Linked DNA regions of Homo sapiens: region 1 is linked to region 2. Evidence: fine-mapped expression QTL. A gene starts in region 2. The other region holds a variant in brackets. All regions are shown on one strand. Distances are between the middles of the regions.

Region 1 (4,403 bases), 270 kb after region 2:
GGTTTCAATGGACAAAATATAGTTGTGTGACTAGATCCACTTTGGTTATTGTTCATTACTGAGTAGACTGTGAAGCCAAGAAGACTGAATGGCACATAAATATTAGGCTACATTTTCTTTGCTTCTTGTCTTTAGATAAATTTTGACACCTATAACTTCTATTCAAACTAAACTGAAGCTTTAGTTTGAAGAGTATATCTCTTTCTACATATGTACATTGGTAGATTCATAGATTTAGTGAATTTTTAATATTGACTAACACAATGTATACTTGGACCATGACTCGTAGGGTCATTGGTAAGCAAGCCACAGATCAGTGTTGATAAAAAATGGTATAAAGAATCACCTAAGATCTTGTGACTAATATAGATTCTAGACCCCTCTACTTTCCAAATATCTAGGAAGTTTGGATGGGGTCTGGGCATCTGTATGTTTTTAGAGCTCTCCAGTTGACTCTGATTTACATTGGTGAACCACTGTATTAAATCTTTGACTGACACTCTGAATCTTGTTGTGGACCTGTTGGCTTTTATGTTCCGAGGCTACACATTAAGATTTTGGTAATAACTTGCTATTCTAGTTATTCATTTTACTTATAAGGCTGCTTAGTTGAAGTTTGTAGGTAAACCATTGCAAAGTCACCATCACTTCTGGAAAAATAACTCAAGGCCCAAATACCCCTCATGGTGGATTAGGCGAATCATTCTACTATGCAGAAGACACATGCCATTTGCATGTGTTTCCAGGTGAATGCATGTTTTTCATTTTCAATATTTCCTCTCTCTTACTTTCTGCTCTTCACACTTTGAGCACTATCGCTACAGGCCTGAAATTCATTGTGTTCATCATTCTAGACAGGTACCTAATGCAGGATGTGAGGCAAAAGCAGAAAGAGGAAGCTTTGTTTTAAGAAGCTGGAAATTAGAAGATTGGAATCGTGTTAATCTATGGCCACAGAATGTAGTTTTTAAAAATCATACAGTTTTCTCTGGTTTGAAGAATGATTAATGCATCATCACCTGGCCTTACATGGCATTCTTAAAATGTATGGACATGGATCAACTGATCTTTAATCGGATTTTCTTCTCTGAGATCACAACATTGAAAAGCTTAGATTTATACATTAGAGATATAGTAAGGGTGGGGGAAAAGACTGGAAGTGTTGATTATTAATTGATCTATTGTATAAATTTGGGCAAGTTACACAAGTTTATATAAGACAAATCTTGGAATTATATAAAGATATTCCTTGATTTAATATTTTTTATTATTTATATCCATGAAACTATAATTTTCACTAAAAATGTAGCACGAGACAGTATCAACTTACTGATAAATATGAAGTCTTTGAACTTTTCTTATATCTAAAAGTCACAGCTTGAGTAGGCTTTTGGAGTCTGAATGAAATTATCAGGAAGATACTGATAATCTAGTTTTCTTAAATTTATCTCCATATAAAGTTCATATATATTTATCTAAATTTTACGTAAGATGAATGAGCTGTGATATTCAATATTTAAAAGACTATTTACTCTTGGCATTTGCATGGGAAGTACTCTATCCTATGGAAAATTTTGCTTTAAAGGTGTGACCATATTGGCAACCTTAAGGTTTTTATTTCATTTTATCAATGTTTTAAAAACTAAACCCTTCAAATAAATCAAGGTGGCTTCATCTTATACTAAAATATTCACTAAGAAACAATGTATAAGGGAAATTACAATAAAGCAAGATTATTCCTATCTAAATCTTGCCTTCTACAGAGAAGATAGAGGCTGGGTGTGTGGCTCACTCCTGTAATCTCAGCAGTTTGGGAGGCTGAGGTGGGCGGATCACCTGAGGTCAGGATTTTGAGACCAGCCTGGCCATCATGGTGAAACCCTGTCTCTACTAAAAATACAAAAAAATTTATCTGGGTATGGTGGTGGGCACTTGTAATTCAAGCTACTCGGGAGGCTGAGGCAGGAGAATCGCTTGAACCTGGGAGGGGGAGGCTGCAGTGAGCAGAGATCATGCCACTGCACTCCAGCCTAGGCAACAAAACGAGACTCCGTCTCAAAAAAAAAAAAAAAAAAAA[G/AAG]AAGAGGAAAAATGTTAACAATATTAATTAATATTAATTAATTAATCAAACTTTGTTCCTATAGCCTTCTGGTGTTATGTTCAAACTCAAAAATGTTTACATGCTTTTTTTTTTTAAGTTTAGGATTAAGAAGGAGGAAAGACAGTCTCACAGTTTTGTACCCCTTTTTACCTTTTATTTGAGATGCCCAATCAGAATTGTGAATTCAGCTTTAAGATGACAGCAAACTATATTATTGGTGGAAACACTACTTGCAACGTAAGCATCATAGCCTCGTTGTAGTCTATGTAGTATAACAAGTATAATAAAGCTTGGTCCAGCCATCATGTGAGAGAACAGCTGGGTTCTGGTCCTCGTTCTATTTAGCAGTTTTGCTACCTGCAGAGGGTCCTTAACCTCACTGGGAATTTGTGTCCTCATCTGAAATATTGAGGAAATAGTATGCACCTTTGTCATCTGATGGGATTCTTAGGAGGACCATTTAAGAAATTTACTTAAAAGTAATTTTAGAGTACTTAAATGAGACACGGAAAGTGACATTACAATCTACTTCACTGACCACAGATATAAACCCTAGTGGTGTATTTTTAAATTGCTTTCACCAAATCTTTGAATTGTTTTGAAGCACCTCCTGGACTTGTTCTTTTGTGTTTTATTTGTTCTCCATCTCCCTGAGGAACTTGTTCCATCAGTCATGCTCTCTTTTCTATAACTTCAGCCACTTCCTTTCTATCTGCTCTTTCCCTTTAGCTTGTAAACAAGTTCAGCTCTCTCCCACAGCCTGTGTCTAGCTCCCACCCAGTCTTTATTCTTAGCCCAGCTGCTTTAAAAGGAGCAGTGCAGTTTTCTGTCTCTGCCTCCTATGCCCTCACTTGGCCTCTCTTTCCACTTAAGCTGGTCTAGCATGGTGAGGATTAAAATGTGTGATATTCCAAGGGTCCCTTTTCATCTTATCTTATCAGGCCTTTCTCCTTTATTGGAGACCATTGACCACTCCAGCTTTCCTAAAATGCTACTCTCTGAAGGTTCTTCCTCCACCTCCCTGACCTTTCCCTCTCAGCTTCATCCATGGGCTCCTTCTTCTCTTTTCCTGTAGCATTTTGCTTTTCTTACAAGATTTAGTTCATTGGTTCTCTCTGGATATTCTCTTCCTAGGCCACCTAGAATTAAGGGTTTTGTTTAACAGCTGAATGCTGATAATTATAACATCTCTTCAACCCCAATCTTTCACATGAACTTTAGATAAATAAATATATTCAGCTGTCCCAAAGGCAGCCTAGAACCACATGAAATTCAGTGTATCCAAAACTTAATTTATTGGCTTCCCTTCAAGACTTGGTCATTTTGCTTATGTAGTCCCCCTTATGCCAGTTAATGGCAACATGATGCTACCCGGTCATTCAGTCAGTCATTCAATCAGCACAATTCCAATCGTTCACTAAGATCTACCATTTTACCTGCTAAATGTTTCTCAAGTGTACCTCTTCTCCATCCCTACTACAAATGCCTCAGTTTAGGCCCTCATCATCTATCCCTCAGTTACTGTGATAGCATCTAAATTCATCTCCTTGCCTCTCATGTATCTGCTTTCCAACAAACACATATATTGGTGCCTTCTGTTGCTAGTGTGATATAAAACTATCTAATTTTGTATTTACCTTCCTTAACAACTTTCATTGGGTCCTGTAACTTGTAGAAAGAATAAGGTTCAAGCTTCTTAGTGTGACATACAAGATCCTGCTGATCTAGCCCATTTCTGAGTTTTAGTCGCATCAACTGTCATTCTCAGCCTCAAAATAAGGAATTGCTTGAGGCTGCCACCCCCAACACACACAGACACACACAAACTCTCTCTCTCACTCTCTCTCTATCCCCTTTCATTCTCTACTGTCCAGATTCCACCCAGAACTGACATTCTCTCATTAGTTGAGCTAAGTGCTCCTCTGGCCATCTCACAACAGTCAGTACACCTCTGCCATGCAGGAACAATACCATACTGAGAATGCTTTCTTTCCATGAATCCGTTTTACACATTCCCACCAGATTAGGCTAAGTCCCACTTTTATAATGTCACTCTCCAGTGACATTATAATTTATTAACATTATTTATTAATTATTAATATAATTTATTAACATTAACAATTTATTCCAAGCTGCCATTGACTGTTGCATCACACTTAACACATTATACTGACCTTACTTCTGTGTGACTTTTTTTTTTACCTAAGAGTGCCAAGAGTATCCAGCTGCCTTGCAAGACTGCTCATGTTCTCCTCCACTGTATCTAAACAAATACTATGATTTCCATTATTGTCCTTAACACTAC
Region 2 (4,403 bases):
ATCATAGAGTTTTACAGTTTTCAGGTTAACATTATTGAAGAAACACAATCAAATTACAACTGATTACCGCCGTCCCCTTAAAGAATTAAAAAACCATTCTCTTTGGTCCAAACAACAACCAACAACTGGCTGCACGTGTCCTTTCCAACCTCATTTCCCACTACCTCCCTTAATATATACCATTCTTACTAGCTAACTGTACCAGCCTGTTCAACAGAAATCACTTCTGTCTTTCTTGCTTACACTGTCCTCCCCACCTGAAATGTCTTCTGTCCATATTCCCCACTTAAAATATCATCTAGGCCTAGCACAAATGTCATTTGCTCAGCAATCTTCTCCGTCCTTCTTAGTTTGGGAAGTAATCTCTTCTTATGAGCTCCTTCCTACAGGACCACAGTAAGAAAAATCTGTTACTGAGTATTCCTTTTCCTCACTAGACTGTAAGCTCCTCGAAGGCAGGATCAATATTAAAATTATCTTAGTTTTTGTCACTGCAGCATGTTATACATAATATATAGTTGACAAGTACTTAAAAAATGAATTGTTGGGCTTAGCAAATCAAACACACAATGGACCTCATTATAATGAATAAGGTATAAGAACAGTACTGGTTACATGGATATGAGTCCGAAGCGTCACAGTGTGACAGCCTCTTAAAGCCTGTTTCTTCCTTTGATTCATAAGATCAATGTCAACAAAGCCACAGGACTCATTTTTTTTTGGCTTCTAAGGCAATTTATAAAAGCTCTTTCAGTCATGCTTGCATTACCTTCAACAACTACCTGTCGTACACTCATATGCAGAATATTGTGGGGGTGGGCCGGGCACAGTTGCTCACTGTAATCGCTGCACTTTGGGAGGTTCAGGTGGGCAGATCACTTGAGGCCAGGAGTTCCAGGGCAGCCTGGCCAACATGGCGAAACCCTCTCTCTACTAAAAATACAAAAATTAGCGGGCGTGGTGGCCCGCGCTTATAATACTTGCTACTCAGGAGGCCGAGGCACCAGAATTGCTTGAACCAGGGAGGCGGAGGTTGCAATGAGCCTAGATTGAGCCACTGCACTCCAGCCTGGGTGACAGAGTGAGATTCTGCATCAAAAAAAAAAAAAAAAAAAAAAAAAAGAATATTGTGGAGGCTACAAACTTTCATAAAATACTATCTCTACTCTTCTAAGGCAGAAAGGGTTTTTTGATTTTATTAAGTGCCACCCTACCTAAAGTTATTTGAAAACCTGACAATACAGTAATAATGATTACAGCTACATACATTGAGCCATTATGTGCCGGGCATTGTTGTCTGTAGTTTTAACATATTGAGGCATTTAATCCTCCCAATAACCACGTGAGATGAACTAAATATTGTCCCCCTTTACAGATGATGGCAACTGAGGCAAAGATTAAGAAACTTACAAAGGTTTCATAATGTAAGAAGTGGATTTTGAAGCCAGGGAGTGGTTTGGTTTCCAGCTACACTGAGAAAAGAGACCAAGTCTTAGCGTATTTTTATCTCATAAAGAATCTAACATCTGTTTTCATGTAAAGTTCCGAAAAGACTGCACTATGCTTCATGCACTATGCTTCAGGAGTGAGGAGTGGGTAGAAAAAGCGGAATAGTTTTAGGTTTTAGTCACTCCAAAACATGATTCTGTACGAAAGAGTAGGTACTGCAAAGGTAGTGGCATACACATCCACCCCTGGACCATTTTCCAGCCGCCCGAACACCTTCCAGATCCTCGACACGGAGACCGGCTCCAGGGCCTTTATCTACCTGCAGGTAAACTGTCCAGGAATCGGGGGACGCAACCCAATCTGCAGTGGTAACGGGACCTCCCAGGTACCCTGGGGATCCCCCACAGGCGCGTGCTCTACCCAAAGCCGATATCCGCCAGGCGGGCGAGTCCGAACGCGACTGACAATTCCTTCTCCCCGACCCTCGAGAAACTCACGCCCCGCCCCTCAGCCGACAAAGCGCGGTGCCCCTCATACTTAGAATCTGCAGAGAACACAGCTCTCCTAAAGTTCAACTCGCTGCCGCCACAACGAACCACGCGGATGTTCTCCTCCTCCACCATCTTTGCGCAGTAGCGGAATGGCCAATCTCTGGTCCCGCCCTGAACTTCCTTCGTTGAGCCGGGTAATAAGGCTGTTCCCAGCCCACAGAACCCACCCCCGGGCCCTTCTAGGCCTGAGACTCGGTGGTAGGACTCCGCTTCCGTGCAGGCACCTTTTGTGTGGGCAATGTCAAACTAAGACACTTGTAAGAAAAGGTGAAAGCAAAACAGAGATTTAGAGACAATCAGTTTTTATTATATACCTATACACAATTATTTAATACAGACATATTTCTCTCAGGCCTTGTCAACCTGACTCTATGGCTTTTTCCGCCAGAAGGGAAAGGTGGCGTATAGTGTACCACGTGACCTCCAGTCGTCCCACCGGAGGCGTCGCTTTCTAGTGTCTGTGGTGTCGGCGCTGCAGGATGACGCGAGCCTCTCGCGTCCCTGGTTTTCTCGGTCGCAGCGTTGAGTTATTGGGTGGAAAGGTAGCTTTCTCTTCCTTGTACAGCTTTTTGTTCCTCTCATTAGCCGTTCTTCTGTTCTTGTGAACATCGCTTAGGTTACTACAGAATCTCCACAGTCCTAGGGCCTAGCTTTCTTCCTTTGGAAATCTGGCTCCTACTCCGGGATTCTGGTGCATCTTCCGCAGCGTTCAGTGTAGCTGCTCGGGCTAATCTGACATTCGGCCAGTCCCGCCAGGTTTCAGGGCGCTGGTCTCTGGTTTCCTGAGTTTTACCTTTTCCCATTAGTGAATAGAATCTGTGGGTTAGGAACCCCTAAAATCTCAACATGTTTATTTTTGCCAGTTTATCTCCAGTTTTCCTTTGTAAACTTACACGTATCATATTCTTGGACCCTGTATATTATGTTGCCTATTTTGATTTCGCTTCTTGATTTGTGGATTTACCACAAAATTACCAAGGTCTCAAATATAGTCACATGTCACATAAGGATCTTTCAATCAATGCATATAACATGGTGATTCCGTAAGATTATAATACTGTGTTTTTACTGTACCTTTTATGTGTTTAAATACACAAATACTATTCTGTTACAATTGCCTGCAATATTGAGTACAGTAACATGTTGTTCAGATTTGTAGCCTAGGAGCAATCAGCTATAACGTACAGCCTAGGTGTGTAGTAGGCTGTACCATCTAGGTTTGTGTAGGTACACTCTGTGATATTCACACAATGATGAAATCACCTAAAATGCATTTCTTAGAACATATCCCCATCATTAAGCCACACATGATTATACCTATAAGTTTATTTATGGTGGAGAAATACAATATTCACAAAGGTCAAGACATATCCTGGGACAGCACCACTGTAAAAATCAGGGATAAATTTACTTTTTACTGAGGAGTCTAGCTTATTAAAGTGCTCAAAACTTTATTATTTGGGGAGCCAGAACTAGAAAGGGAGATATTTAATAATTTTGGTTTATCTCAAGCTGTAACCAGCTTTCTCTTTCATGACTGTGATACCCTTTGTCACAGTGGATGGAGTGTAAAATATCACTTTTGATTCTGCAGCCTTAACCTCTTTTTGTTTAGTCTCTTGATGTATGCACAATAAATCTTTTAAAGACTTTGTTGGGTACTTTGTAACCTGATACAGGCTTTTCCTTAGGGCCTGAGCCAAGAAACAAAATAAATATTTTCACTCAAATTAGTGTGACTTTAGTTGTATGTTACTGTATGGTAACTTTAGATTTTTCAGAAAAGAATCAGAAATCCTGATATGGACAAAAACTAGCTGGATTGATAAATGTATAGGAGGATTATTTTACACAGAGTTTTAATTTACTGAAGTGCCCAGAAAGATAAGTCATTTGTATTTTGATTTCTTTTTACATAATTTTTAAGGAACCAATCCCACCTACAGCTGTTTAATTAATAGTGCGTTGTCTTTATCATGTAACAAGAAGGCTGAGGTAGGCAGAATAGGGCTAGTGCAGTGGATCATTCATGCCACCAGGGACCTGTGCTTTCTCTACTTTGTTCTTTGTGTTATTGTCCTTAACCATATTGGTTTTGTCCTTATGCTCACAGTTCATGTTCCTTTCAGTTAGAAGAAATAAGGGAATAGCAAGAAAGAGCATAGCCTATATACAGAAGGAAAAGGATTTTCCAGAAACACTTATTTGGCATCTTCCATCCAGGAAATATTTACTAAGTGCCTAGTATATGCCAGACATTCTTTCAGGCTCTGGGAATACTGGAGTGAGAAAAATAGTTAACAAAATCTGTATGTTACTGGACCTTACCTTATCATGGGAAGAAACAAAAACTTATTATACTTTTGATGTATTTATGTGCCAAGGGGAAACTCAAAGTAGAAA

What was found. PIP is the estimated chance that this variant, and not a neighbour inherited with it, causes the effect.
Region 1: its variant is fine-mapped to the expression of WDR75 in whole blood (INTERVAL, PIP above 0.99).

Annotation. Positions count from the first base shown.
Region 1 is chr2:189,170,643-189,175,045 of GRCh38, reverse strand. All of the region lies in intron 1 of COL5A2 (collagen type V alpha 2 chain), which reads left to right. Among named protein-coding and RNA genes, the nearest start is that of COL5A2, 6.9 kb to the left of the region's middle. The variant G/AAG (reference allele first, on the strand shown) is at 2,078.
Region 2 is chr2:189,439,162-189,443,564 of GRCh38, reverse strand. It overlaps WDR75 (WD repeat domain 75), which reads right to left and starts at 2,091. Exons shown (of 21, transcript NM_032168.3): 1 at 1,987-2,091. The coding sequence starts at 2,072. It also overlaps a transcript of COL5A2 not described here. RefSeq lists enhancers at 1,646-1,695, 1,716-1,945, 1,966-2,095, 2,356-2,575, 2,596-2,755 and 1 more.